4 linked regions of the Homo sapiens genome follow. The protein of the gene in region 4 interacts with the protein of the main gene of each other region in a biochemical or structural test. Each region holds a gene or a part of one and is shown on either strand. Other genes may lie near its edges. The genes, in order: RALGDS, RAPGEF1, RAPGEF2 and RAP2B.

The links.
Region 1: the proteins of RAP2B (region 4) and RALGDS form a complex in vitro, tested with the Homo sapiens proteins (one study listed by BioGRID).
Region 2: the proteins of RAP2B (region 4) and RAPGEF1 form a complex in vitro, tested with the Homo sapiens proteins (one study listed by BioGRID).
Region 3: the proteins of RAP2B (region 4) and RAPGEF2 form a complex in vitro, tested with the Homo sapiens proteins (one study listed by BioGRID).

What each region holds. Positions count from the first base shown.
Region 1 is NC_000009.12:133,117,777-133,126,355, forward strand, and holds the start of RALGDS (ral guanine nucleotide dissociation stimulator), read right to left. Parts: upstream 3,465-8,579; 5' UTR 3,379-3,464; coding exon 3,196-3,378; intron 1-3,195. UniProt on the Homo sapiens protein: Functions as a guanine nucleotide exchange factor (GEF) activating either RalA or RalB GTPases and plays an important role in intracellular transport. Interacts and acts as an effector molecule for R-Ras, H-Ras, K-Ras, and Rap.
Region 2 is NC_000009.12:131,736,743-131,744,814, reverse strand, and holds the start of RAPGEF1 (rap guanine nucleotide exchange factor 1), read left to right. Parts: upstream 1-4,738; 5' UTR 4,739-4,984; coding exon 4,985-5,045; intron 5,046-7,367; exon of another isoform or gene 7,368-7,400; coding exon of another isoform or gene 7,401-7,410; intron 7,411-8,072. UniProt on the Homo sapiens protein: Guanine nucleotide-releasing protein that binds to SH3 domain of CRK and GRB2/ASH. Transduces signals from CRK to activate RAS. Involved in cell branching and adhesion mediated by BCAR1-CRK-RAPGEF1 signaling and activation of RAP1.
Region 3 is NC_000004.12:159,098,603-159,106,449, forward strand, and holds the start of RAPGEF2 (rap guanine nucleotide exchange factor 2), read left to right. Parts: upstream 1-4,476; 5' UTR 4,477-5,560; coding exon 5,561-5,629; intron 5,630-7,847. UniProt on the Homo sapiens protein: Functions as a guanine nucleotide exchange factor (GEF), which activates Rap and Ras family of small GTPases by exchanging bound GDP for free GTP in a cAMP-dependent manner.
Region 4 is NC_000003.12:153,165,246-153,171,127, forward strand, and holds the end of RAP2B (ras-related protein Rap-2b), read left to right. Parts: 3' UTR 1-5,382; downstream 5,383-5,882. UniProt on the Homo sapiens protein: Small GTP-binding protein which cycles between a GDP-bound inactive and a GTP-bound active form. Involved in EGFR and CHRM3 signaling pathways through stimulation of PLCE1.

The sequences.
Region 1 (8,579 bases), on a different chromosome or scaffold from region 4:
GGGCGGCCAACCAGCAGCTCTTGGGAACCAGTCCTTGACTGCCTGGGTGCAGCTTCCTGAAACCGCTCCACTGGCTCGTTCAGAGCCTGCCTGCAGAGGGCCAGTGATAAATCTCCCCACTCTTTTCTCATTGGCAACGCAGACAGGTCCTGGAAATGCCCAATTTCCAGGTTAAGAATCAGACCCCAGCTCTGGCAACGAGCAGCTTGATATCTCCCAGGGCCATTCCTGAGCCTCCCGGGAAACAGGCCAGCATGCCTGAGCATCCCCCGCCTGGAGAAGGAACAAAGACCCAGGACCAGCCAGCCTGGTCCCCCTCTTCTGGGGGACCCTCCCGAGTAGAGCAAGAGGGGAACCTGAGGGTCCTGGGGGCTGCCCCTTCAGAGTCACCCAGGAAGCTCTCCTGGAAGACCACAGTCTGTACACATGCATGCAGGGACACACACCCACACAGGGACAGGCCCTTTGCCTTGGGGTCTTCAGTGTCAAAGTGCTCATGAGCCCTGGGGATTAAACCGAAGACCTGCACACAGTGTGATCAAGAGATCAAACAGTGGGAAGACGCGGGAGGCTGAAGGGAGATGCTCCCTGTGAATACAGAGAAGCCCTCTTCACTCCAGCCCACCTGCAACTGCCCTCAGGCCTTGGGTCAGAATCCTGGCCCTGCCACTGACCAGCTTGGTCACTCTGTGCAATCTAATTCACCTCTGTTGCCTCAGTGACTTTATCTGTCAAGTGAGCTCTTAACAGTCTTGACCCCAAAAGGAGATGATGCAAATTACTTAGCCAAGGACCTCCCCAAAACCTGCTGGCTCTTATTAGCTGTTATCTTAAACCTGTGGGGTCCAGTTCTGGGCTTGCTTCCTCCAGGTAGCTCTCCCCAGCGTCCTGTGGCCCAAAGCACTTTTGCCTTCCTCTGAGCCATAAGCTTCCCTACTGCTCACCTGACCTCAGGGCTTCTGGGCTGCCTGGGCTTCCTCTGACTCCTGGTGGCTCCTGCACACAGTAGGTGCCACAGAGAACACAGCCCATGCTTAAATCCTGGCTGCGGCCCTTGCTGGCTGCACGGGTGTTTAGGTCAGAGACTTCCCTTCTCTGACCCCCTAGCTTCCTAGAAGGTGGTGTTGGCACCTACTCTGTAGGGTTGGTCTAAGGCAGATGAAGTGAGGGGGTGGCCCACAACCTGCACTTTTTGTCTGGCCAAAGCAACAGCCTGTCCAGAGATGGGGGCACGGACCAGGTCACCTCCAGAAAGCAAGAACTGTGCAGGCCAAGCTGGGTCATTGGTGGCTTGGCTTAGAATCGGGAAGATAAGCGGAAGCCCAGATGTGAGGAGATCTGGCAGCCCAGAGGGAAGCACCGGGTGGAAGCTAGGTAGGGAAACAGGGATGCGGGGGAAGGCAGAAACTGTCTGGTGGTTTCCAGAGAGGACAGGGACCAAGTGCGCAGCGTCAGCTCTGGCAGGCCACATAGACACCAGGAAACCAGCCCCAGGACGGGGGGTGTTGGCAGGAGGGACAGGGACTTCCCCGCCCCCTCCCTTGGGCCCTTGGTAAATGGTCATTGTGTTCAGTTTCCGGCAGTGGCCTCCTCTCCTGCCAGGATCCTGGTTTTCCTGACCCAGCCAGAAGCTTCCCCTTTGATTTCTAAATAGCAGTCGAGGTCTGGATCTCAGTGCTGAGGCTGGGCAAGGAGCGCCAGGGCCAGAGAGAGGGAAGACAAGACCCCCAGGCAGGGGTGGGGCTCAGCTCTGCCTCTCCCTCAGTTCCTCAGGGACGGAGAGAGGGAACCTGCACGGCCACTGTGAGCGCTCCGCCGGACCCTCCCAGCACACAAAGCCCGAGCTGCTGCCAGAGGTAATGAAAGCCAGATGAGCGCTGGGCTGGTGTCAGCCTCCCACCCCCACCCTCCCAGGGGTCCCTCTCCAGCCGCCAATGAGGACCAGAGCCCTGGATAGATGAGGGTTGAGGGAACACGTCTGGTCCGGCCATCTGCCAAGCTCAGGAGGAAAGGGTCTCTCAGGCGTGTGGTGTTCCCCCACCAAGAGCTCTGCCCAACACTGGGCGGAGAAACAAGTCGCATCCAGGCCCTGTCTAGGTACCGGGACACCAAGAGGCACGAGACTCAGGCTAACAATCGCCAGCAATCACAACGCGCCACAGTCTAAAGCCATGAAGCGACTGGAGACGCAGCAAGGCAACACGATGCCGCACGGGGACTCAGGAGGTTCACTGTGAAGGCTGCAGCCCAGCCAAAGCTCTGATGGGCCCTGAGCCCCCGATCCAGGAATGGCCTCTGTGCAGGCCCTGTGCCCAGGCAGAGCAGGGCGAGGGGGGCATCTCTGGATTCCACTCCCTCTGCTGTGTAGTCAGCAGCAGTCAGGTGGGAGGCAGATGGCACCACCCAGAGACCCAGGGCACACGAGAAACAAGCCCCCGCCCTCACCTAGTCACCCTCCCCTCCATCCATCACAGGTACACCACTCCCTTCTCTGAATCCTACCCAGTCCTTACCGATTCAGGGTGTTGGCACTCTTTCCAGTTAAGCAGAAACAAGTCTTGCCCGCCCTGGGCCTGGGCCACCCTCCTCCCCTCACCACCAGGACATCTGGTCCCACGTGTTGGAGGCCTGCTGCTCCACCCCATCCCCCGACCCCCCCCCCACCCCGCTCTGAGCAGCCCCGATGTCCCTGGTCACCAGATCCACATCTGCCCCAAGTAGGGTCTGTCTGGAAGGCCCCTATGGTCTCATCACCTCTGAGGATTCTAGGATTTGGCCTTCCCGACCACTTGTTCCACACCTGCATCGTAAAGGCTAACGACGCGCTGCGGGCCCTGGGTGGGAACTGAGTGAAATAAGGCACAGGCCACCGATGTAAACAGGGACAGTGCCGCAGAAAAAGGTCCACCTGGGCTGCAGCGGCCTTGGTGACAGCAGGCCCTGGAACGGTATTGAGGGGCGCAAAACCCCAGCCGTGGTCCCTACTGTTGGACGGGGCGCGGCGGCAGCCCCCACTGCCCACCCTGCTGGCTGATTTCTGCAGAAGGCCCCGACCCCCACCTATGGAGGAGAGAGGAGGGAGGCGGCCCGCTGGGATCGCCCGGCCCCGTCCGGGGCTCGCCCCGACCTGCCCAGCTCTGCCGCGGGTGGGGAGGCTCCGACGCACCCCCCGCCCGACCGCCCCAGCTCACCCACCTCCGGGCGCGGCAGGTCGGGGTCTAGCTGCGTGAAGCTGTGCAGCACCACCGGGCAGCTGTCGGGGACGCCCACCTCCAGGCGCACGGCGTCCCACACGCTGCGGCTCCGCCGGGAGCCCGGAAACAGCGGCTCGGCGCCGCCAGCAGGCCCGGCCGCCTCGGCCCACATGCGCTGCACCATGGAAGGCTCGCAGCGCGGGCGCGGGGCCGGCCCGGCGCGCGGCGGGGGCGGCGGCGCGGCCCGCGCGGCTGGGCTTTGCCACCGCTGTGAGCCCGCGGCCCGGCCCTGCTGATGTCAGGCTGGGGGGCGGGGCCGGAGGGGAAGAGGGTGGGGCCGGGGAGGGGCGGAACCGGAGAGTCCGAGGGACGCGTGCGTGCGCGCGCCCGCGGCCCCGCCCTCGCCGAGGTCAGACCCGGGGCGGGACCGGGAGCCTGGAGGGGCGGGGTCTGAACAAAGAGGGCGGGGCCGGGGAGGTCGAGGGGTGCGCGTTGGCTGGGTCTCCCGGAGGACCGGCTGTCACGTGTGTCGTGGGGCCTTGGGTACCCCGGTTAGGCACCGTTTGCGTGTCACGCTGCTGCAGTGCGTGTGTTGCGTAGGGCTGAAATGTGTACGTGCTGATCATGTGTGGGGAAGCCGCCCTGGAGTCAGCTACCCCGAATTCCAGCAAAGCCTCTCCCCAACTCTGTGGCCTTCCACAAGTTGCTTAACCCCTCTGAGCCTCACTGTTTCTTCATCTGGAAAATCTGGGTAGTGAAAATGACTTCCTCAAACAGTTGCGGGGAGGATGACATTACGTAATGGACATGAAGCACTCAGCACTGAGCACCTGCACCTGACTACAGGCTCAGGCGGAGTTTGGAGAGGCTGACCATGTGTTCAGTGACCCTGTCAGTGCAATTGGAAATCCTGAGTGTGGGGCTGTGTGTGCAGTGGGGGAAAGGGTCAGAGAGTGGGGCCCTACCTTTTTGGGGCAAAGCCCCACACTATCCCCTTACAGACACCCTCAGAGGAGGGGAAGCCAGGGAGGTGGGGGAGAGCGGAAGGCACCAAGGTTGGGGCTGAGAGGCATCTGACAAGGAGGAAGGCATCAAGAGTGACAACGCTGGGCAGAGCACATGGCTGCGTGGCCTGTCAGCTGGGGCTGCTTGTGGCTTGGACATCCCTGGTCTCAGGGTGGAAGTGGGGCTGCTGGGGCTGAAGGGGAAGCAGGGACAGGGACATCCTCAACTACTCTTTCTGGAAGCCAGTGAGGAAGGAAGACAGCCTGGGGCTTAACAGCAGGGCCAGGAGAATGGATGAATGAATGGGACCCTTCCTCATGCCTCACTCATCACTGGGCCTGCCCTGGCCTCAGCCTTCAGTCTTCATGGAGGCCAGCAATTGCTGCCAGCAGCCCTGGCCATGCCAACCTCCCCAGGTCTGGTCCGTACTATTGGGCCTCAGTTTCTCCATCTGTAAACTGAGAGGGCGGGACCAGACAGCACATTCCACGAGCACATCTTGCCCCCTTCCCAAGTGCCAATCCTCAGACACCCACGAAACACTTCCACTGTGACTGGAGTGAGGCGGCAGTTCATCCGTTCAGAACAAGACCCCCATGTGCACACGACTAGAAGGGCCTACTTCACAAAAATTATGGTGGTAAGTTGCAGCTGGGTGGAAGCTCTACTGGTTTTCATTTTACTTCTCTGAATTTCTAATTTCTAAAATCAGTATTTTAATAATCAGCTCTATGTGATAAATGCTGTTTTTGAGACAGTCTCACTGTCACCCAGGCTGGAGTGCAGTGGTGTGATCTCGGCTCACTAAGGCCTCCGCCTCTTGGGGTCAAGTGATTTTCCTGCCTCAGCCTCTCGAGGAGCTGGGATTATAGGCACCTGCCACCATGCCCAGCTAGTTCTGTATTTTTCGTAGAGACAGGGTTTCACCATGTTGGCCAGGCTGATCTTGAACTCCTGACCTCAAGTGAACCGCTCGCCTCGGCCTCCCAAAGAGCTGGGATTACAGGCAGGAGCACTACGCCCAGCCTGTTTTTGTTTTTTTTTTAAGAAGCAAGATGGGTAGATTTGATTTGGGATGGAGATCCCTAGAGGCTGTTTAGGAAGCCTCCAAGCCGTTTGGCCAGGGAGGGTAATGTGGGTGAGGCGTATTTCGAGGCAGGAGGTCCCCACAGGGCCACAAAGAGGTGACCGAGACACTGCCCTCGGCCCTAAGCTCCTCCTCCCATCCCTTTCTTCTGGGGCCAAGCTCCCAATGCCTCCGGAAACTGAAAGTCCAGAAGCTGCCTGCCACTGACTTTATCTCCTCTGCTCTCTTTATCTCCTTCGCTGAGTGATGGGCCTGGGAACAAGCGCCCACCCGTTTTATAGCCCAGAAGGACAAGTGACTCATGAGGACATAGAGGAATCACCACTATTCTGGCCTTGAAGGTCCTGGGTGCTGGGGCGAGGGGTGGCCCCAAGGAGGCTGGAGTGGTGAAGAGTAAAGAATTCATCACACTAAACCCCCCAACGCGGCTGGCCTGGCTCCCTCCCATCTGACTATATCATCTACAGGAGCCAGGGCGGGGGAGGGCGTTACTTAGCCAGTCCCTCTGGCCGGTGTCTGTTTTTACAAAGTTCCTCTTCCTGCCTTGTTCCCCTACCTTTGGGACTCACCTCCCAACTTCTGGGAAGCCTGATCACTGCTCTGGCTGTACATGAGACACACACACACAGACAGACACAAAGATACACAGAGATGCACACACAGAGACACACACATAGAGACAGAGACACAGACACACACACACACACAGAGACACAAAGATACACAGAGATGCACACACAGAGACACACACAGAGAGACAGAGACACAGACACACACACACACACACAGACACACAAAGATACACAGAGATGCACACAGAGACACACACATAGAGACAGAGACACAGACACACACACACACACAGAGACACAAAGATACACAGAGATGCACACACAGAGACACACACATAGAGACAGAGACACAGACACACACACACACACAGAGACACAAAGATACACAGAGATGCACACACAGAGACACACAGAGAGACAGAGACACAGACACACACACACACAGACACAAAGATACACAGAGATGCACACACAGACACACACATAGAGACAGAGACACAGACACACACACACAGAGACACATACATAGAGACAGAGACACAGACACACACACAGACCCACAGAGACACATAGAGACAGAGACACAGGCACACACACACACACATAGAGACAGACACAGAGACACAGACGCACAGAGACAGACACAGGCACACACATTTAGAGACGGAGACACACACACAGAGACATTGGAACAGAGACACACACGCAGAGATAGAGACACACAGACAGAGACATACCTACTCAGAGACATAGAGACAGACACAGAGGCTGGGTGTGGTGGCTCATGCCTGTAACCCAGAGCTTAGGGAGGCAGAGGCAGGATTTCTTGAGCCCAGAAATTGGAGACCAGCCTGGGCAACATAGCAAGACCCCATTCTCCACAAAAAGGGAAAAAACAAGTTTGAGATAGACACAGACACACACACACAGATATAGAGACATAGACACAGATACACACACATAGAGACAGAAACACAGATACACATGCCCCCCTAATGAAGGCACAGATAAAGTTCCCTGCACAGGATGTGTTGCCCAATGCCCTCAGATCGGGCGGGCCTGACTCTGCCTCACACTGTTAGCAACTGGGGTTGGCATTCATGGGACGCCTCCTGCATGCAAGACCCTCTCCTGAGGCCTCCTGTAAGCTGTGGGGACACCCTAACCAAGGGCAAGGCCATCCTGGGACAGCGTGTGTCACCAGTGGAGGAACGCAGCACCACTCACAGTGTTCTCCTCAAAACCCAAACCTAAATCAAGGCAGGCCTCTGCATATAACTGCCATTTGTGGGATTACAGGGGACAGAGAAACATGTTCAACACACCACAAGGGTGCAATCCACAAATCCAGGCTGTGGGAACCTCTATGGGACAAACAACCCAGTTTCTTCAACAAATACATTTCAGAGGAAAAAGAAAGGGGAAACTAGACTAAAAGAAGGGTCAGAGACGTCTAACAAATGCAATGTGTGGATTTTGGATCATGATGTCAGCAAGACAACTGTTTAAAAAAAACAACTATAAGACATGTGGATTGTCTGAACACTGCTACATATTGGATGACATTAGACATCTTTTTAGGTGTGAGAATGGTGTTGCCGTCACTAGTAGAGTTACATCTTGGGCTATCTGTGGATGGCATCACATGCCTGGGATTCATGTAAACATCTCCAGGGGCGGGCAGGGAGTGGGGCAGTGAGAGGTGAACAAGAGTGGCCCTGCACCGATGGTCGTGAAAGCTGGGGGTCTTTATGCCATTTTCTCTATTTTTGTGTCTATTTGGAATTATCCATAATAAAAGTTATAAGAAGAAAAATGGCCAGACGCAGTGGCTCACGCCTGTAATTCCAGCACTTTGGGAGGTTGAGCTGGGTGGATCACTTGAGGTCAGGAGTTCAAGACCAGCCTGGCCAACGTGGTAAAACCTCATCTCTACTAAAAATACAAAAAAATTAGCCTGGCATGGTGACGCGTGCCTGTAATCCCAGCTACTTGGGAGGCTGAGGCAGGAGAATCGCTTGAACCTGGGAGGTGGAGGTTGCAGTGAGCCGAGATTGCACCACCGCACTCCAGCCTGGGCGACAAAGCAAGACTCCGTCTCAAAAAAAGAAGAAAAAGGACACAGCTTGAGACTCACCCTCTGATGCCTCTGAGGCTCCCAGCAGTCCTCCAGAGAGGGCTACAAACTTCTGACCCCGGGCAGTGACTCCTGCCAGGCTCACCGTTTCCTGTATTACTCTCTGTGGGCACAGGGGTCACTGATGGCATCTTCACTACAAAAGGGGTTGGGGGCTCTGCTGTGGGGACTGAGGCCGTGGGCAGCTAGAACCCGAGTCCGGATGCCCACATGGGGCTATCAGAGATGGCTGGGGGCAGTCCAGGTGAACTTGGGTGGGTTTGACACTCAAGGCCAATGACAACCCTGTGCTTGGCGGTTGGAGCCTCTGCTGGGAGGAACTAAGGACTCTCGAGATCACTAAGCACTGCCCGGAAGTGGGGGGTTCTTATGAATCGGCATTGATCCCTTCCTCCCTCCTGCCCCAGCTCACGCCCCCCCACACCCCCACCTAGCCTTCCCAGGTTCCCAACCTCCCCCCGGGACGTGCACCTGCCTTTCCTTGGGGGCTACAACCACAAGCCCCTGGAGAGCACGGCTGCACAGACCTTTCGGAAGTCGGGACGCTGCTCGCAGAGGAACTTTAAAAGGCAGGCTGTGAACTG
Region 2 (8,072 bases), on a different chromosome or scaffold from region 4:
GGAACTTGGGTTTGGATTGAGCATCCTTAGCGGGTCTGGTCTCACGGCTGAGCTGGGGAAGGAAGTGGCCTCGGGATGTGTGGGAAAGTGAGTGATTGTTACGTGCAGTTCAGTTGCTGGCGAGGTATTGAATTTCCTGCCCTTTGGTTCTACCTATGAGACATTCTTTTTTTTTACCAATAGATTCCCCTTTGCCAACATTAAGTAGGTATCTACAACACGTGACCAAACAAACACTCTCTTATCTAGACCCCGCCCTCCCAGGATTCATGTCAGGATTGAGGCAGTGACTGAGCAGTGCCCAGCCACAGGCAGCCCTCAGGAAGCATCAGCCCTCATTCCCATGACTCCTGTTAGTAATGGTTTCACCTCCTCCTCTGATCTACAATGGTGATGTAATGAAGCAATACTCTCTGTCCACAGGGAACGGACAGTGGTGTCTGGGAGTTCAGGCAGGTGCCTGCTAACAGATCCCACCAATCCAAGCTGAGGTGGGCCCCTGGCCACCAGCCTCACTCTGGCTGTTTTCTACCCGAGTCTCGTGGAGTTCCTGTTGTCTGAATAGCTGAGTGTTGTCTGCAAACGCAAGAAGAGGATGTGGCGCTTTTGCAAGGGGCCCCCATCTAAAATAGTCTCTGTGAGCAGGCTCAGAGCCACCTAACTATTTCTTCCATCTTCCACCATGGAGTCTGGAGAGCTGCTAGGGTAGAGTGGTCACCTGGCTCACCCCATCCTTCCCTGGAATGTTGGGAGAAGGCCTGACAGCACCCACCCGAGTGTTGACTGAGCCCCTTCCCTCTGCTGGAGTTGGTGCTGCCGCAGTACAAGAGCCCGGCATGACCCCTTGTCTTAATAGGGCTTTATTTTCTGTTATCTTACAATTTATTTTGTTTTCAGACACAGGTCTCACTCTATTGCCCAGGCTGGAGTGCAGTAGCTATTCATAGGTGTGATCATAGCACCCTACAGGCTTGAACTCCTAGGCTCAAGTGATTCTCTTGCTTCAGCTTCCTGAGATGCTAGGCTGTTCCACAGCCTCTGCTCCCAAGTTTTCTCACAATTGGCACAATTCCTAGGCTGGCCAAGTCACATATTCTACCCCATTCCTGCAGTCATTGGCCTGGGGATAGACGTGTGACTCAAACTGAGCTAATTAGACTCTGCCATGGGGCTCTCTTTGAAACAATGAGGAAAGAGATCCTCTTTGTCCATTGGGGTTGTTAAGCAGGCAGGTGACAGGCCCAGGACTGCTGGTGCCCAGCTTCACCCTTTGCTACCTTGTAGAGAAAGATGACCTGAGAAGGGAACCAACATAGAGGACCAATGGCCTTGTTCCAGAGCCTGGGTTAGCTGCATTTGGACCTAATTGTACACCTGGTTTACTAATTATGATCTTCAAAAAATGCCCTTCTTGCTGTAAGCAATAGCAGAGCTAGGTTTCTGAGAGTGAAATCAAGTTTCCTAATCAGTACAGGAGGATGGCCCTGTTGGGGCGTGTCAGGGAAGCATTCTCCATAGAAGTGACAGTGAAACTAAGAAGCAAAAGATGACTGGGACCAGCCAAGTGGAGAGGAGGGGAGGGAACATTCTAGACAGCAGGAGCAGCTCATGAGAAGGTTCCAAGTCAGCCAGAACTGGGCTTTGGGAATCCGTTTGCTTCATTACCTTGTGTGTGTTCTACTATAGTTATAAACATCTTTGATGAATAGCCTTTATTAAGTAAGTTCTGTGACCCTGATTTACCATAATGTCCATTTGCAAAGTACTTTGTTGTTTGCAAATCTTTTGTCATTGGATATGTCATAATTTATTAAATATATTTGTGTTCTCACAAACCCCTGACTGCACCTAGTATCCATGCAGTCTAGTTTTCTACTTTTCAACCAGGATTTTGGATTTAAAATATCGGCTCTTCTCAGCTCAGAAGCCTAGAAGGGTTGGGGGCAGCATTGAGTGTGTTTTGGGGTTGGGCCTGGGACCAGGGGCCAGTTTTGCCTGGTAAGGCATCTGCCAAGAGGGCTGAACAGGGCCACCCTGGATCAGAGCATCCATTCATCAGGTGGAAGAGGGAAATGAATTTGTCAATCTTTGGATTTGCCTTTGACCTCTAGAGGGCTGCAACTGATGAAATGATGATGGGAAATTTGGCTGCCATCTATGACCATCTCCTTTTTTTTTTTTTTAAAGAGGGAGTCTCGCTCTGTCACCCAGGCTGGAGTGCAGTGGCGCGATCTTGGCTCCCTGCAACCTCTGCCTCCCAGGTTCAAGTGATTCTCGTGCCTCAGCCTCCTGAGTAGCTGGGACTACCAGCGCGCACCACCACGCCCGGCTATTTTTTGTATTTTTAGTAGAGATGGGGTTTCACCATGTTGGCCAGGCTGGTCTCGAACTCCTGAACTCAGGTGATCTACCCACCTCGGCCTCCCAAAGTGCTGGGATTACAGGTGTGAGCCACCACACCCGGCCTGACTAGCTCTTAGTTGTGGAATCGGTGACCCTTTAGACTGTCCAGGGAGATGGGAATAAGAATCTCTCACAACATTAGCAGTTTTTCCTCCTCCCTGCACCTCCCCCAAATCCTGTCCCCATCACTAGGTTATTTAATTTACTTATTTTGGGGGAAACAGGAGGGAAAACTAGCCCAGGTGGTGCGTGCTACTTCTTTGTATTCCATCTTAGACTAACAACAGGAAGCAGGCAGCAGAATTGCCCCACATTGGAACATCACTTGCGTTACTAATTTGTTGTTATTTACTACTTGTATTATAGGATTTAACTTTGACTTCCCAGCTAAGTTGTGAACTCTTTGGAGGGAAGCACCAATTGTGCCCACTTTTGTAGGGCCCACAGAACCCGAAATAGTGCTTAGACTTAGCAGATCCTTTGATTCTTAAATGACTTTTTTTTTCCTTTTTTTTTTTTTTTTTTTTAGCCAGGGTCTTCCTCTGTCACTCAGGCTGGAGTGCAGTGGTGCAATCATGACTCCCTGAAACCTCTGCCTCCAGGGCTCAAGTGATTCTCCCTCATCAGCCTCTCAAGTAACTGGGACTACAGGCAGGTGCCGCCGTGCCTGGCTAATTTTTGTATTTTTAGTAGAGACGGAGTTTCACACATTGCCCAGGCTGGTCTCGAACCCCTGGGCTCAAGTCATCCACCCACCTCAGCCTCCCAAAGTGCTGTGATTGCAGCCGTGAGCCACTGTGCCCAACCACGACTTTTTTTTTTTTTTTGAGACGGAGTCTCGCTCTGGAGCCACCAGGCTGGAGTACAGTGGCATGATCTCGGTTCACTGCAACCTCCATGTCCTGGGTTCAAGAGATTCTCCTGCCTCAGCCTCCCAAGTAGCTGGGACTACAGGCGTGTGCCACCATGCCCACCTAATTTTTGTATTTTTAGTAGAGATGGGGTTTCACCATGTTGGCCAGGATGGTCTCAATCTCTTGACCTCGTGATCCACCTGCCTCGGCCTCCCAAAGTGCTGGGATTACAGGCGTGAGCCACCGTGCCCAGCCACGACTTTTAATGAACTCATTTCCACACTAGAAAAGTTCCACAGCTGAGCCCCAGGGTGCCCTTCTGGATGTCAAATAAGCAGGGCAGGCAGGGTGTGCTGTGTCCCTGAGGGAGTTGGGCCCAGGCCAGCATGGAGGCTCTAGGCCTCAGGGGACATTTAGGCCTGAGTAGGGCCAACCCCAGCCCGGGACAGGTGGCTCTCGCTGGCAGGGTGACTGAGTCCCACATGCAGGGCTGGGGTGGAGAATGAATCCTCCGCCTTGGCATAGACCTTGGGCCAGCAGAGGGCTTTCATGCCAGAGTGGACTCATTCCCCGGCTGGAGCCTCTGGGCTGGCAGGAGGTGCTATGAGGCCACTCCCAGGCCCTGGTGTGGGGTCTCCAATTAAGAAGGGGGTGCGGGCAGGGTGCAGTGGTTCACACCTGTAATCCCAGCACTTTGGGAGGCCAAGGTGGGTGGATCATGAGGTCAGAAGATCGAGACCAGCCTGGCCAACATGGCGAAACCCCGTTTCTACTAAAAATACAAAAATTAGCTGGGCATGGTGGCATGTGCCTGTAATCCCAGCTACTCAGGAGGCTGAGGCAGGAGAATTGCTTGAACCCGGCAGGCAGAGGTTGCAGTGAGTCGAGATCGCGCCACTGCTCTCCAGCCTGGCGACAAAGTGAGACTCGGTCTCAAAAACAAAAAACAAAACAAAAAAGGGGGTGCTGCATCTCTGGTTTGGGGGAGGTCAGGACAGGCTCCCAGCCAGCAGAGCTTGTTGAGTCCTGGTGAGAGTGAGTTCTAGGCCCTGGTGTGGAGCCTCTGGCCCACAGGGGATGCTGGGTCCGGGATGATGCTAGGGTGGGGTGGGCGTCAGTTCCACGTCCTGGGGTGGAAAATCTGACCCAGGAGGGTTCTCTGTGTCTCTGGTGAGGGGGCAGGCCAGGCTCTTGGGCAACCGAGGACCCTGGGTTGGAGCTGTCAGTCCCAGGTCTGGAGCTGGTGACTCTGGTCCCACAGCAGAGGAATGCGGAGTCCCAGGCGGGGTCGGCCCCACACCCCAGGCCCCAGGCCCCGGCGTGGGGACTCCGGCTCGGCAGGGGGCGCTGCGTCTCGCGCGTCGCGCGGGAGGCTCGGGCGGCTCCGGGCCCACAGGGGGCGCTGTGGCGGCGCGGCGGGCGCCCGGCAGGTGGCGCTGTGGCCGTGGCCGCGGCCGAGGCCCGGCGGGCGGGCGGGCGGCGTCGCTGCGCTGCGGCCGGCTCGCGGGCCGGGGGAGCGGCGGCGGGCGCGCGGGAGGCGGAGCGGCGGCGGCGGGCGCGGCGGGAGCGGCTGGGCCCGGGCGGGCTGGAGCGCGGTCGCCGAGCGCAGGGCCGCGGCCGCGCGGAGCCCGCCATGCCGGCGCGGGTCTGAGGCGTGGCGAGCCAGGGCCGAGGCGAGCGGCGGGCGCGCCGCCCCTGTCGCCCCGCGGCGGCCCGGCCCGGGCCCGATGAGCGGCGGCCTCGGCCTCCGGCGCAGCCCGGAAATGTCCGGCAAGATCGAGAAAGCAGGTGAGGCGCGGGCGTGGGGCGGCTCCCTCCGGCCGGGCCCGGCCCTGGGGCTCCGCCGCTCCCCGGGCCGAGCGCGGGTCGCCCGGGATGTGCGGCCCTCCGTGCGCCGGGGCGGGGTGAAGCCACCGAGGCCTCGCCGGGGCGCCTGGCAGCTTCTCCTCCAGGCCCATTGCCTGCCGGGCGCGGGGGGAAGCGGCCGCTGCGGGGGCGCCAGGGGCCGGGCCGGGCGGGGCCCCTGCAACCCGGGGCCGGGCGCGCTAGCCGCTCCGCGGTCCCCGGGAACTTCCGAAAATGGCTCGAGCCCCAAGCAGGGGAAGAACAGCCCGGGCCGCGTGCTGCTGCGGCTGCAGCGATCGGTGCCCGGCCTGGGCTCGGCGCTAGGAGGGTGAACCCAGCTGAGCTGTAAAATGTGTCATTTCTAACGAGCTTCGAGTTTAACGAGAAGCGTCCACTTCGGTTGCTTCAAAGGAAGCAGGCTGGATGAGTGGGGGTATTTTGAGGAGGTAGTCAAGTTTCCCCTCCCCACCCCGATCAAGCTCAGCTCTGCAAGGAGGGCAGGTGGGGGACCGGTGGGTTGGAGTAGATGGTAAATCTTGATGCAGACCTCGTCTCTTTGTGTGTTCCTAGAAATCTGGGGGAGTTACCTTCCGAGTCCCTGGGTTTGCCTGTCCTGGAAATAGAGTCTCCAAAGATTCAATGACTGTCGAGCCTGTGGGGCCCCAGGCTTTATTAGCCTGCAGCACCTTGCAGGGCAAATGCGAATTCTTGGGTCTAAGGTGAAGTGGGCGGGTGCTCCTGGGCTCCTGTACTGGGAGCATGCCCTGTGGTCATAACCCCGGTAGCAGGTTAGCTTGGCGGCTGAATGAGGGAAAGCAGATTTTTAGGGAGCTGCAAAGGAGGTCTGTGGCTTTGATTGTGGAAGTTGCTTATGTTTCCTGGGTTGAATCTGGGATACTTCTGTGGGGTGCACCCCTGCAGCGGACCCACAAGGCAATATGACTTTTGCAGGCTGTGGTTGAAGCACAGAAGGACATTTTTGTAGGCTTTATTGAGGGTTTACTATATATCTAACTCTTAGCACCTAAAATGCATTGCTTCTTAAATTTTTGAAGCTAGTCTGTGGGAAAGAATATGGTCCCAGTTTTACAGGCTCAGAGAGGTTCAGTGAGTTCCGGCTGTCCAGACAGCAAGAGGGCGGCAGGCCCCTAGTATATTCATTCCTGGCCCTCTGACCAGAAGCCAGGGTGCTTTTCTCAGGGGCAGGGCGCTTGGGTTCAGGTGCCATTTCTTGAGTATTTTTCTCACTGAATTTGAGCCCCCACAGCCTTGCCGAGTGACCATGAGTCGCCATCCTGTACACCTGCTGCTCCAGAAATAACTTGGGTTCATCTGTGCAGCATTTCTCAGGAACTTCTTGTATAGTGTCTTGTCAGAACGGTACTGTTGGGAAACTTGGATAATTTATTTTAAAAAGAACATTCACTGAGTTCTTTTATAAGAACTTTATAATATATAAGATTATATTATATCTTTTTATATCTAATATAAGATTATATTATGTTTTATATCTTTATAATATAAGAATATTCTATGTTCATTGTCAAAACTTGGAAATCACAGAAAAGTAAAATGAACCGGATTGGAAATCATCTGTCAGCCAGGTACAGTGGCTCACGCCTGTAATCCCTGCATTTTGGAAGGCCAAGGCAGGAGGATCACTTGAGCCCAGGAGTTTGAAACAAGCCTGGGCAAAATGGCGAGACCTCATTGCTACTTTAAAAAAAATTTTTTTTTTTTTTTTTGAGACGGAGTCTTGCTCTGTTGCCCAGGCTGGAGTGCAGTGGTGCGATCTCGGCTCACTGCAAGCTCCGCCTCCTCCTGGGTTCACGCCATTCTCCTGCCTCAGCCTCCCGAGTAGCTGGGACTGCAGGCGCCTGCCACCACGCCTGGCAAATTTTTTTGTATTTTTAGTAGAGACAGGGTTTCACCGTGTTAGCCAATATGGTCTCGATCTCCTGACCTCGTGATCCGCCCACCTCGGCCTCCCAAAGTGTTGGGATTACATGCGTGAGCCACCGCGCTGGGCCTCTTTTTTTAAAAAAAGGAAAAAGTTGCCTGTCATCCCATGAGCTGCCCAAACCGCTGGGAATGAAATGACTCTTCATTTGAGTTCTCTGCTATTTGGGAGAAAGACCTGAGGCCAGTTCATTTCAGCATAGTTTGTCCTTGGGCCTTTTCTGGGCACCGCCTTCTGCTAGGGGGTTGTAGATGAAAGTGCCTGCTCCCAGAGAAGCTTGTCTAACCTAGCACAGTTTCTAAGCTACCCAGGCTGCCAGACCGAGCGACCGTGCTGCCATGGACACAGGTGAGAGAGGGGTGTCATGAGTGCGGGAATGAGGAAGACACTGGAGGGGACAGTGTTTGTGCTAGGCTCTGAAGAGAGGGCTGAGATATATACCTGGTGGAGACAGGGAGAAAGAGGAGAGAGGGGAAGGGGCTGACCAGGAGCTGCGGAAAGTGTGGGAGGAAGATGCATTTTGTGAGAAGCAGAAAAAGTAAGAGTTCTGAGATTGGCAAGACCAGGGTCAGGACCTCGCCTGCAGATTGGGGATTGCAGATGTGGAGCTGGCTGGAAGTCCAGCCTCCTTGCAGAAGGTCTTTTGCTGCAGTTCATAGGAATCATAGTGAAAGATTACAACTGCCAAGGAAGACTGGGGCGCGCCTGGAGTGAGGATGACCTTTCCTGGTGGTCTCTGCTGGCTATTCTCAGTGAACTTCCCTTTGCATTTAGACGACATTTTGTTAGATTTCTGTTGGAGTTTTTTTAATGGACTTCCCACTATTCAGTCTCCAGAGGAGTATTTGATTCAGAGGAGAGGCCCTTAGGTGAAGTGGTGGCAGAGCCTGACACCAGGCAAACAATTGTTGTGATTGGAGTTTTGCTGTTTTGTTATCTCAAAGCAACAGAAACGTTGCTTAAATATGTTCATAATCTCCTCTCCCTGAAAGTAGAAGAACCAGCGTTTT
Region 3 (7,847 bases), on a different chromosome or scaffold from region 4:
CCCCCAGTGATTTTCTAGATAATATGATGGTAGTAGAAACAGAACAAAGAAACTCTCATTTTTACACTTGCCTTTATGAGGCAGCATAATAGATAGCTTACTTTGATTATGGTTTGCTGACACAGTTTGGTTTAGACTAATTGGCAGAGTGGCAGATCTTTGTCTAATTCTGTCTTCCAGGTTGTGCCTAGCACATTACTGGTGCTCAAATGTTAATAAAACAGCAATGCATGCCAAGTATCTGATGTCCTAGATGCTGAGTGGTGATATGCATTATTGACATATGTAGATAAGTAGGTTATACATAGTGTGAAAATTAGCTTTAATTGAAGTTAAATGATAGCTTAGAAGTTGACAGTGAGTTAGTCATTTTGTTGGTGGATAAGACATACTATTATGTCTTACCTGAGGTGATTGATGTAATTCAGTGTTACAGTAGAGCACACAGAGAAAAAAGACTTGGGTGTGCAACTGGAATTCCTAACTCTTGCTGTGAGATCTGGCAGAGAGGCATTCCTGTCTGGTGTAGAAGGTCCCCTCTAGCATCCCCCCTCCCCATGGGGCAAGGAGTTCCATACTCTCTGAGCACCTGGAACCCTGGTCCTGACTGCCTTGCCACTTCCAGACCTCATCTTCCAAGGCTGGCCCCTGGCCCGAGGAATCACCAAGGGGTGGCTTTTTTGAGGGGTGTGATATCACTTAGATGTGTAGGCTGGGTTGTCCTTGTCCTTTTTTTTTTTTTTTTGAGATGGAGTCTCACTCTGTCACCCAGGCTGGAGTGCAGTGGCTTGATCTCAGCTAACTGCAAGCAACCTCCACCTCCCAGGTAAAAGCAAATTTTCTGCCTCAGCCTCCTGAATAACTGGGACTATAGGCACACGCCACCACGCCAGGCTAATTCTTGTATTTTTAGTGGAGACAGGGTTTCACCATATTGGTCAGGCTGGTCTGGAACTCCTGACCTCGCGATCTGCCCACCTCGGCCTCCCAAAGTACTGGAATTAGTACAGGCATGAGCCACCGCACTAGCTGGGTTGTCCTCTTATGTGTGAGCCTTTCCATGGGATAGGATGAAGCTGAGATGGAAAGAAAAGGGGATTCCAGTTGCAGACCAGATACCAGTACTCCCTGCAGTAGTACTCAGTACTCCCCCAGTTAATTTGTAGCTTTTAGTATTTATGATAGAGTATATGGATCCCCATTTGTTAGCTGGCTCCAGAACTTTCTAAAGTTAAAGGCAGTCCGGGAACTAGGACAAGTCATGTAGCCTATTTTAGTGTCAGTTCTTCATCTGTAAATAAGATAACACTGTCCCACTAGCCTCAGAGAGTTGCAATGATGAGAATAATCTTAAATATAACTACCATTTATTGAGTATATACTGTTGTTAAACCACTATGCAAGGCACTTTGCATGTATTATCTTGGATCGTCACAAATCTTCAGGGTATGCAACTTTTTCTTTTTTTGTGACAGGGTCTTGCTCTGTTACCCAGGCTGGAGTGCCATGGTGTGATCATAGCTCACTGCAACCTTGAACTCCGGGGCTCAAGATAACCTCCCACCTCAGCCTCCTGAGTAGCTAGGACTGCAAGTGCACCCCACCATGCCCCGCTCCTTTTTTTTTTTTAAGTTTTTGTGCAGCCAGTGGTCTTGCTATGTTGACCAGGCTGGTCTTGAACTCCTGGCCTCAAGCTATCCTCCTGGTTCAGCCTCCCAAAGTGCTGGGATTACAGGTGTAAGCCACTTTGCCTGGCCAGACTATTCAATTTGTACTCTCTTTTTATAAAACAGAAAACAGGCTCAGAGAGGTTAAGTTTCCTCTCCCAGTTTTCTCCCCGCAACCAGGGACACAAGTGAGATAATGTATGTAAAAATCTCATACAAATACAAGGTAACATGAACTACTTCATGTATCCATTTAATACCTATTTGTTGGCTGCCTGTCTTGTGTTGAGGATATAGCAGTAAATAAAAGGGACAAACATCCCTGACTTAGAAGCTTACATTACAGTGGAGGGATAAAACAATAAATAAAATAAATAAGTATAGATGGTTCTCAATTTACGATGGTCAATAAATTGACTTTCGATTTTTCCACTTTATAATGGGTTTATCAGGGTATTAAATGCATTTCTGACTTACAATATTTGCGACTTACAATGGTTTCTCAGGATGTAACCCCATCCTAAGTGGGCAAGCACCTGTACAATATACAGTATGTTAGGTGGTAAGTAAAGCGACGAAGATAACCAGAGTGTATGGAGTTACAGGGAAGGTGACATTCAAATGAAGATATGATGACAATGAGGAACAACATTCTATATTTTGGTTGTTGTGTGTGTGCATTTTTCTTTTTGTTTTTTGTTTTTGTGGGTGCAAGTGGGGTGGGGAGAGGGGGAGAGATAATCCAGGCAGTAGAGGGAACAGCAGATGGAAAGGTCATGAGACTGGAATTTGCTGTTTCAGAAACAACATGGAGGCTAATGTGCTTGGGAACAGAATAGTAGAAGAGGTCAGAGAGATAAAGGTCCATAGGATATTCAGGCCATGGTAAGACTTTGGCTTTTACCTTGAGTGGTATGAGGAGCTAAGCAGAGGAATGATTTGAGAAGGAGTGAAAAGAATTCACACTTTGGCTGCTGTGTTGGAAATGAACTGTATGGCAAGCAAGGTTAGAAAGAGGGGGACCAGGTGGGTGGTTATGACAAAGTGCTGGCCAGACATGATGCTGGATTGCACCAGGGTCATGGCAGTAGAAGTGGTAGATAAAGGTTAGAGTTCAGATATGGCATTCTGGAGGTTGAGCTGACGATTTTTACTGACACTTTTGAGGTATAACAGAAAGAAAGGAGTCAAGGAAGTCAACGTTTTCACCCAGGAAGTGAGAATGGTGTAGATGTGATTAACAGAGGATGGGGAAGGCTGTGGGTGTCTGAGACAGGAGATCTGGAGCCTGGTTTGCACATGTGAATTCTGAGATGTCTATTAGACACCAGGTGGAGATGTCAGTTATATTTTTTCACTTCATTGGGTTTGAATTCTTTTATCTGCCTCTCTCCTTTTTTCAGAGCTGTATTGGCACTTATTCATGTTCCTTTGCTTTCAAGGTAGTGGCCTATGTCATAGAGAATTTGATGTTGGCGCTCAACTAAGAGGTGAAAGAGAAATATAGAGAAGCAGTTCCAGCAAGAGTAATATAAAAAGGTCTACAGATACAATTTGTAACTCAGATTCCCTTTCACAAGGTTGGGCAGGGACAGTCCCTTTGCTAGGAAGTCACACAAGCTGTTTAGTGCACACAGGTGACTTAAGGAACCCCAAAATGTTAGCTGACAATCTATTCCAAGTGTTTAAACTAGATGTTGAAAATCATGTTTGAAAAGTTCAACGCAGTAGCTCATACATAAAACTCATTGTGTCTATAGATATCAAAATAAGAACTTGTGGGGGGTGGGGGCAAACAAAAATAAATCCCTGGGACCAGAACAGCAGAGTGGTCCCCGATGCTTGGGCTGACCTTAACACACCTCTACGTGGCCGGGGCAAGGAGTGGGGGGGAGCTGAGGGAATCAGCAGGAGCGGTGACATCTTGAAGGACGAGGTATTGTTTCTGCACCATGTGGGTCCGGTTTGGAAATTTGAGCATCTAGAGGAGGAGGCTTGTTCTGTCCAAGGCAAAGCCAGACCTACCAATAAATGTTTCTGATTATGTCACAGAACTTGCCATCCTGGTCTGTCGCTAAGGAGTGATCAACTTTAAATCTGGAGTGTTTGTTGGTCTAGGGGTGGTAGTGGGTCTGGTGTTGAAACCTCTCTGCCTAATTTCGTGGTCATTTTACTGTCTGAGGTGCCAGAGTGGGCTTGGAAAGCAGGGGAGGGTGCAGCAAATTACAAATAAGCAAAATAAATCCTAAGAGGATTTATCGCCACAGAAGCAACTCGGACGCAACTCTTGGGCTCAAAAAGAATGCCCAGTACAGCCCGGGCTGGTGGGCCGGTCTTTTGCCCAAGGTTAGCTTTCAGCCCCTGGGCGGCGGCGTGGCGCCAGGAGCGGGCGGGGAGCAGCGACCCGACGCGGCTGGGTCTCCTAGTAGGGCGCGTCGGGTGTGGGGAGGGGGCGCGGCGTGAGACAGTGGGGGACACTGCGTGAGGAAAGCCCTGCGCTTCTCTCCGGGGCACCAGGACTTGCGCCCCCTCTTCGGGTCCAGGCCGCGCGCGGGACCCGACAGCCCGGCCGAGGGCTCCGCGACCCACTTGCGGCCAGAGCGCTGCTCACCTGGGCGCCGCCGAAGGTGCCGCTCAGACGCGAGGGCGCGGCCGCTGGCGGGCGGGGAGCGGGGAGGCGGGACCCGGCGCGACGGGGCTGCCCCGCCCCCCGATGATGCGGCGGCCGCCGACTCGCCCCCACGCTGTCACTCATTCCTCACCATGGTTGCAGCACAAAGCAACAAGCCCCAGAGGCCGCTTCCTCCCTGAGGAGCGGCTCCGGCGGCCGGAGAAGGCGCAGGAGGAGGAAGAGGCGGAGGAAGAGGAGGGGAATCGCCGCTTCCCAAACACTCTCTCCGAGGGGGCTGTGCGCGGCTCTCGGCTTTCGGCCCTCGGACGCCCGCGCCGGGAGTCCGAACCCGGGCTGTCCGCGGCCCCCTCTTCCCCCTCCTCCGCCCCGCGCAGACGAGGAACAAAGTTGCCGAGAGCGACTGGGCCGGAGGGCTGCAGCCCGGGCCGGGTGCTCTGGCCGCGGCGGCGCCGGCGCCGGGGCAGCTCCGCTCCGGGCGCGCTGATGGGGGGAGGCGGCGGCGGCGGAGCCCACAGCGGCGGCCCGAGCAGCAGAGGCGGCGGCGGCGGCGGCTGGGCGGCCCGAGGGGATGCAGCAGCAGTCGGGAGGGACGGCCGAGCCCAGTAGACAGAGACCAGGAGCGGCGGCCGAGGCGATCGGGCTTCGCAGCGCCCGGACCTGAGCCAGACCCACCTGGTCCGTCCTCCCGACCGGCGGCCGAGGCGCCCGAGGACTGGGGACGCGGAAGATCCAAGTGATTCTCGGAGACCCCTGGGCGGCGGCTGCGCAAGCCCCTGAGAGGAGGGGGCGACCCTCAGCGCCGTGGGGGAGGAGGCTCCGCCTGCCCACAGCCCTCCCCACTGCCACTCGTACCTCCCTAAAAATAACTCGGGCCCGCTGGGGCCAGGAGGAGCCGCCACTGTCCCCCGAGTGGAGCCGGGGAGGCGTGTCGAGCCAGGGCCGGAGGAAGCCGGCGGAGCGGCGAGGAAGAGGAGGAGGAGGAGGAAGGGGAGTTCCGCCTGCGGGCCGCATCGCACGGCAGCCTAGGGGCGCCGCGACCCTCCCGGCTGCGTCCAGCCCCTCGCGCCTGTACCGCGCTCTCGGCCGCCGGGCCCAGCCGAGCCGCCCCCCCGCGGGCCCCGCGCCGCCGCCGCCGCGGTTTGGCTGATTAGTCGCGGGCGGGCGGGCGGGCGCAGCGCGCAGGGCGGAGGCAGCAGCGGCGCTGGGCCGGGAGGAGGCCGGCCAGGGTGCGGAGCGGCCCCGGCCCGCTCCCAGAGGGGAGATGGCGTCCTACGTAGATAACAGCTTCCGCCAGGCGGTGATGAAGAATCCCCCCGAAAGGACCCCCCAGGTGAGAACGCGGCGGCCGCCTGCCCTTGGCCGGATTTCTGCCTCGCAGGCTGCGTCTTCCCCTGTCCCCCCACCTCCTTCCTGACACAGTTCGCCCCGAGCACCCCACTTCTTGCATCAGGACCCCCAACTTCCAAAGGCATCCCACCTCCGAGTCTTTTACTCCGCCTATCCTGGTTTTATTTTTCCCTCTCCTTGACATTCTGCTCCTTAACTCTTCCCTCCCCATGACTGACCTTTCCCACTATGTTGCCCAGCCGAGAGAGAGAGAGAGAGAGAGAGAGAGAGAGAGAGAGGGAGAGACAGAGAGAGAGAGAGAGAGAGTGTGTGTGTGTGTGTGTATGTGTGTGAATGTGTGAATTCTCTAGCTTTCCCTCTCCCCAGCCGCCCTCCGTGGCCTCTGAATCTCAGGGGATGGAGTCTCATCTCCCCTCGGGCAGCGACTCTTGCTCCCTCTGACTCCAGATCCGTTCCTCCCCTTGCAAGTGACCCTTGGAGTTCAGTGGTGTTTGAAAGGTATAGGAGGAAACCTGTACGGTTGTGCTAAAGACAAATCCATGCTGACCTTCAGTAAAACATTGAGGTGTTTGTATGTTTACTGTTTTGCTTTTATTTTTTAAAGGATACTGCTTTCAATTGAAGGGAAAAAAAGTTGAATAGCTAAGTTAGTGCTTTTAGTTTAAATTGCAGACATAGCTGCAGAGCAGGCATGTTCCAGTACACCCTCGGGAAGGGCACCCTGCGGATTCTTTTGGTGTTGCACAACCTTGTCAAAATTAGATAAGTTTGTTAACCTTTATACATTTGTTTACCTGCAGGCTTACTCTTCTCTTACTTATAGCGGCTGATAGGGTTGGATTTGGTTGTCTCAAGTTTTACTGGAGAGGGGGAAATTTTATAAAAATGTGGTAGCTTAATTTTCTCCGCCTTTAGTTGCTGACTGGATAATGACGCATATTCCTAAGCGTTGGGATGGTGACTATAGGAGATCCTGCCTGCCAACCCTCTTAAGACAAATAAGCCCTCCTGATCCTTGGGACCATCAGACATTTAGGATCTAATGCTTGAAAGTGTTGCTTCGCTTGTTAGATGTTGGATGCCATCTGTTCAAATCCAAATGCTCTCCTTCTCTGATGTTGATTATTATTTACTGTGGGGAGAGCATAATAAAATAGACTCTTCCCCTGGCTGCCTTTGGACAAGCCCCAAGAGTGGCACCTGGTACCGTTTTTGATTTTTCATTTTCCTTGATGGAGCTGTCACATCTGGGAGATCATGGATAGATTGCACATATTTATCAAACGTGTGGAAGATGGCTGTAATTTTACAAGAAAATTTATCTGTCTCCAGAAAGTTCCCATTCTAAAAGACTATTTTTATCCCAACAAGGAATGTCCTGCATTGATCTTGTTCTTCTCTTGGTGTTGCACACGCTGCCTTTCCTATGCCTTTCTCATCTATTTGTTTTAAAATGGTCAGTTGGATCAGTCTTCTGCATCTGAAAATGCACATTCCCTGTCTCAGTGTGAAGGAAAAGCAGATTTCAGTGAGATATTTCATTTCCTTTCAAGAATATTGTTTTAAGTGCCAAGTGAAATTACGCATGCTGAGAATATTAGAACCTAGCAAGGCTGGTCAGAAAATGATGTCAGAGGCCTTTGGTGGAAATTAGAGAAGGGGGAAGTGGTGCATTTGGTTGATTAGTTAGAAGAATAACAATGACTAAAACCTACTATCAGGTTGGGGGGCGGGTCACCAAACAAGACTAGAAGAGACAAAACCTCCACTGTGACTGTGGGCCCACTGTGCCAAATAAATGAACTGTTAAACTTTCCTGTTCCCCTGCCAGTTGTGTAGAATAGAGTAAAAACTGACCCAACACAGAACTTGGCCTGGGCCAGCTACTACTAACCCACGACATGAAAGCTTTATTGACAGTCGGAAGGCAGCCCATTTGCCCTACCAAACCTTCATAGAAAAAGTAAACATAAGGAAACCTACCAAACATTTCAAACATTCCTAAGTGTCAGCCCTATTAACTTTGATGTTCGTTTGGTTATTACTACAAATCCCCACGTTTATTTCTTTTCAAGAGAAAGTTGTTCGAAATGTGAACGTTTTCCATCTTTACCTGACTGGCCAGGAGTAATCTTATAAAAATTTGAAATTTACTCAAAAATTATAAAAAAAAAAGTTTTTGTAGAAGGTACTTTTTATGT
Region 4 (5,882 bases):
GGTTTTGATTTGGAAATAGATTTAAAAGAAAACAGGCTAAGATAATATCCTTGTTCTCATTTACACCCTGCAGTTTGGACCACATTTGACCTCATAAGTTTTTCCTTTTAACAGTAGGAGGCAGTGTGAGCTTTTTATTTTTTATTTTTCTTAAGGTGGTCTTAGTAATATAACATGTTCATACATATCAAGAGAGTACTTGGTATACCTTAGGTCTATGAAGTGTAGCTGAAATCTGAAGAGTCTTGACAAAGGGATTTACACCCTTGACAAAACCAAAAGAAATTAACAGGCCACAGGTTTCTTTAAAGCTGTGTTAACATATCTTGCCTTAAAATGTGTGTGTGTGTTTTTGCTTTGCTTTTTTTTTTTTGCCCAAGAGGCATCTCAGTACTCCAGCAATGGAGGAAGAATAGAGAATTTTGCCTGGCAATGGTCCTACTGCCATTTTTTTTTTCCCACTCTGATCTCACTTAAGTTTGATATCAAACACAATTGGGAGGCAATAGTATCAATATCCTAAATGTAGAAATTAAAAGATACTGTATAATTTTATGCCTTTGCAAAGATTCGTTCTTGTATTTGAATAAATTCAGTTGCTAAAGTAGATCCAAAGTGTTAAAAATGCTGAAGTCATGTCAAGTACTGTCTGGAGGGTTTTTTTAAGAAAAGGCATTTGGCATTTAACTGTCTCTTGTTTTATTTTTAAGTTTTTGGAAACCTTTTGACATAAAATGCTGCCAAGTATCTAAGAAATGTATATACTGACAGAAGATATTTGAAAGTGGAAAATTGGAAATGAAATATGTTGCTGGGTGCGTTAATCACCTCCGCCCAGGATTTAGTCACTTGCAGGACCTCTTTATAGTCTAGGATGGCAGAGCAGAAGATTTTAATATGCTTTTATTAAGTGATGTAAAATAAATGCTTTTTGGATTATCAATGAAAGCAATTTTATGTGTGCCTGAAGCAAGAAAATAGCGTTTTTGGTTTTATCTCATATTTTCTTGGCAAAATTGAGAGAAATTAGGAACACTGCTATTTTTTTCTTAAAAATGTTTTTAAGAATATGTTCGTTTCTTTGACTATTAAGAACCCCTTGTGGTATTAGTGTGTGAAGAGATAAGGGCATTTGTTTCAATGAAAAAGTTAGTGTTAAAGGAAGTGAGTCAGGGAGGGCGGAGTTTGTTGTAAGGCAATCACCTGTCAAAACAGAAATTGGGTGGGAAAGGAGTCTTTATCTTGGGGAGCAAAAGCTGACTTTTAAACTTGACCCCTGCTGTTTTTAAACAGCTTTTCCTTTTGGTCTCTGACAGTCAATCCAGGTTTTATGTTATTTCAAAAGGGTTATTTTTGTCCTCCTTTTTTAATAGCTTCAGGAAAGTTAAAGGTATCATCTTAGGTCTAACACTCTAGTCTTTGAGAGTTACGGTTCTTTCGTAGAACAATTTCCATGTTGTTAACTGTTGTAGACTTAATTGAATCACATTTTGGGACCAGATGTATTTGGGGATAGAATTCTTTAAATGTATGGGACTTCATGCTTCCTGATTATGTAATATTTCCTGTGGTTGGGAATCCTAGAATGCCTGATCTATTTTATCTGTTCAGGTAGTTTTGTTATTGTACCCTCTTTTGGGTCATATTCTAGTATTTCTCACAGGGGGTATGAGAAACAGAAAGCTATATGTAGCAGCTGGTCTTGAGAAGTAGAAGCATCTTAACTGTCATAAGAGCATAGATTTTTTGTTTTTCACAACAGCTGGAATAAGTTCCTGCATTATAAGTATAAAGGGAACCGAGATTTAATTTGGAGATCATCACTGTTAAAACGATACCAGACATTTGTCACAGTGTCTTATTTGGGGAAAGTTTGCTAATATACATTTTGTCTGTGAAAATATAGTAAATTTTAAAATACTAATATAATGTGGTATTCTTGATTACAGTATTTTATGCAGACTATTAGGAATGATTCAGTGCATTTAACTGAACACAGAGCTAGTTCTAGGTGAGTGAGATCTTTATCTATTAACTGGATTTTGAAGGTTTGAGAAGGCTATGGGGATCATCTGGTTGAAAGGTTCTCAAACTTGACCATATATCAAAATCACCTGGAGCTTAAAACATGTACTGCTGGGACCCTCCTCCAGTTTCTTACCCAGTGGGTCTCGGGTAGGGTCTCAATTTTCATTTCTAACAAGTTTCCAAGTGATTGTGTTATTGCTGTTCCAGGGACCACACTTTGAAAACCAGTGATCTAGACTGAACTCCAAATGAGTACTATACTGACAGCCACCTAGATATTGAGAGACACAGACTTCAGACTCATGTCACACATTTTGGAGTGCTGTCTACTACAGTTAGAGAATAATCTCTATTGAAATCTAAGCTAAAGAGGACATATACCATTTATACTAAGACTAACTGTTGTGTGTGAAATAGAATAAACATTGCAGGTAGTTTTTGATCATTTTCACATTATTACAGGAACATTTTGACTATGGTTTTCAATGTTAATTCAGAAGTTGACTTTAAATGAAAATGTGGTTAGAATAGAGGCAAAGCCTAAGTGATCAGAATCAACATTCCCCTTCTCCCCAACCTAGGGGAAAAAAAATTTGAAAAGTATGTCTTCAATAAAAGGGGACACTTTATTTGTCTTCTCTTCAACATTAAAAAACAAAGATTTTAAGTTTTCATGGCAAGGGTTCTAAAAATCATTGTGCCAGAGAATTTAAATCTTCATATCATGGTAAGCACATGCGTATGTCTGTGACTCAGTTTCTTAGCCAGACTTCCAGGTGTTAGTTAATTCCTTCTCATTTAGTTCTACTGTAATCCATTCTGGGAAAATGCATACCACAAAACTGTGTATCTTGCAGCTTCTTTCGTTATGCATCTTAATTCCCTCAGAAGGTCCCAGAACTTTATGTTAAAGATCTGGGTTTTTAAAGACAATTTGGGGGCCTTCTAAAGAAACAATAGTAGATCTAATTACAAGTAGTGGATTGCTTACTTCAAATTTCTCTTTTACAATTTAGAAAGTTTAGTACCAGTTTATAGACTGAGGGAGTAGTAGCTACTATTTAGATGCTGAGAATAATATTATCATGCTTGGGTGGGGAAGAAAGGCCCTTACTCAAATCTCCATTTTCATTTTTAATGCTTCCTGGACTTCAGTTATTTTCTTGCTTTTGCCTCAAGAATAATAAATATTTTTGGTTAAAATTTTTTTTGTTCAACCCTGTTGTTGTTACTGTTATTTTCATAGCACAGTAGTCTACAGCTCTCTATAGTAGCTTAATAGCTATTTGCTGAATGAATGGAACATGGAGTGTTACATCTGAAACTATTCTATTAGAAGGTGAAAAGTGTTGATTGAAGAATGGTAGGATTTTATCTTCCCTACCCATGATAGATTTATTAAGATTGTCTTTGGAGCTATGTCTTCCATTCCAACTATACAGAAATAAACTTTTTTAAAGTTTAGTTTGCCCATCTGATAAAGGAACATTCCTGTATGCTATTCTAAGGTTCATTTTCAACAAAAGTTACAGACATTTATGGTTGATAGTTTGAGATCTATGACAGTTTTAGGGAGCTCCATATTCAAAAGGCTATTGCTGGTGATAGTACAATGAAACACTGACTTCAGTATATTTTTATCTTGGCTTTCATTTTACGGTTATTTCTACTACTGTTAATATGGACTAATACTTGATTTTGTGAACCTGTTTTAATTTTAGGGTTATATTTATGTTGGAATAATATATTTTAAAAGTGTCCTATACTATGAATTTATTTGCCATATATAAGACAATCAGAATTATCTGGTAGTTTATTCTAATCCTGGTTAATAATCATTAGGACTAAACTATTTACATTAAAGAAGGAAAAAACAATGAGATGATAATTTTTTTTTTCTTTGAGACGGAGTCTTGCTCTGTCGGCCAGGCTGGAGTGCAATGGCGCGATCTCGGCTCACTGCAACTTCCGCTTCCTGGGTTCAAGCAATTCTCCTGCCTCAGCCTTTCCAGTAGCTGGGACTACGGGCGCCCTCCACCACTCCCGGCTAATTTTTGTATTTTTCATAGAGACAGCATTTCACCATACTGGCCAGGCTGGTCGTGAACTCCTGACCTTGTGATCTGCCCACCTTGGCTTCCCAAAGTGCTGGGATTACAGGTGTGAGCCACCGCACCCAGCCTTTTTTTTGAAATGGAGTCTGGCTCTGTCGCCCAGGCTGGAGTGCAATGGCGCGATCTCGGCTCACTGCAACCTCTGCCTCCCAGGTTCAAGCGATTAGCCTGCCTCATCCTCCTGAGTAGCTGGGATTACAGGCGTGCACCACCACGCCCGCCTAATTTTTGTATTTTTAGTAGAGATGGGGTTTCACTACGTTGGTCAGGATGGTCTTGAACTTCTGACCTTGTGCTCCACCCACCTCAGCCTCCCAAGAGTTGGGATTACAGGCGTGAGCCACTGCACCCGGCTGAGATGATAATTTTATTTAAAAAAAAAATTGTAGAGATAGGGTCTTGCCGTGTTGCCCAGGCTGGTCTCAAATTCCTGGGCTCAGGAGATCTTCCCTCCTCAGCCCCTCAAAGTGCTGGGATTACAGGCCTGAGCCACTGCATCCAGCCAGGAGTGACAATTTCTAAAGCCTTAATTAGTGAAATGGTTTGTTTTGAGAAGCAGAAATGACTAAGTGGTATAGACATGCAGGAAAAGCAAAATGGGCCTTATGGCTATTGAAATTATGAGTGTTGATCTGTTCTATAAATTGGAGGAGACAGCTATTTGCATTCTTTCTTATCCAGTTGACTAAACTTACTCATTTTAAAATGAATTATCTTGCAAAATTATGTGAGGTTAAGTTTGTCAGAGGATTGAAAACGTGGTTGGTTTATTTGTGGTAATTGTGAAAAATTGCAAAGGTAGCAAAATTTTTTAAAAAATGGAAAAGAGAAAGATTATTGATGCCTTGTGAATACAGGTGTCCCCAAAAGGCCTGAGACCAACCTTAATTATCAAGAATATGGTTGCAGTGGAAATTGGTAAACAGCTGAAATTGATTCATTGATTATTCAACACTTATTGAGCACATACTACTATTATTAATAGCTGTACTGCGAGCGCTAATACTTAAAAGAGGAAGTCAGGTGAAGGCGCAACAGCTTTATGCTCTTTTTCACTATAATCTGTGAAATAGTGTATATTAAACAATAATAGTATATGGAAAAGCACATCTACATGTGTCATCAGTTATAATACTGTGGGGCTGTTTGGCAGACAATAGAGTAGATAAATTTATTGAACATTGGGCCTTTGAAAGGTATGTGGAAATTGTAAATAAAAATGGATTCCATGAATTTCAAATAATAATTGTTCTGTTGTATGTGAAACTGTGTAATAAGATTGTCATTTTATTTACTTTTCTGCATCATTTTCAACTTCCTTTTTGAGATTAGCTAAAATTGAACACTTACAAGAGGAAATGATTTTACTTTTATATTTTCATGTCCAAGGGAAGAGGAAAACATGAAGAAAACAGATTTATAAAATTTACTCACAAGGCTGGGCACGGTGGCTCACACCTGTAATCCCAGTAGTTTGAGAGGCCGAGGCAGGTGGATCACGAAGTCAGGAGTTCAAGACCAGCCTGGCCAAGAAGGTGAAACCCCGTCTCTACTAAAAATACAAAAATTAGCCGGGTGCGGTGGGAGATACCTGTAATCCCAGCTACTCAGGAGGCTGAGGCAGAATTGCTTGAACCTGGGTGGCAGAGATTACAGTGAGCCAAGATCGCACCACTGCACTCCAGCCTGGGTGATAGAATGAGACTCCATCTCAAAAAAAAAGTAAAATAAAATTAAATT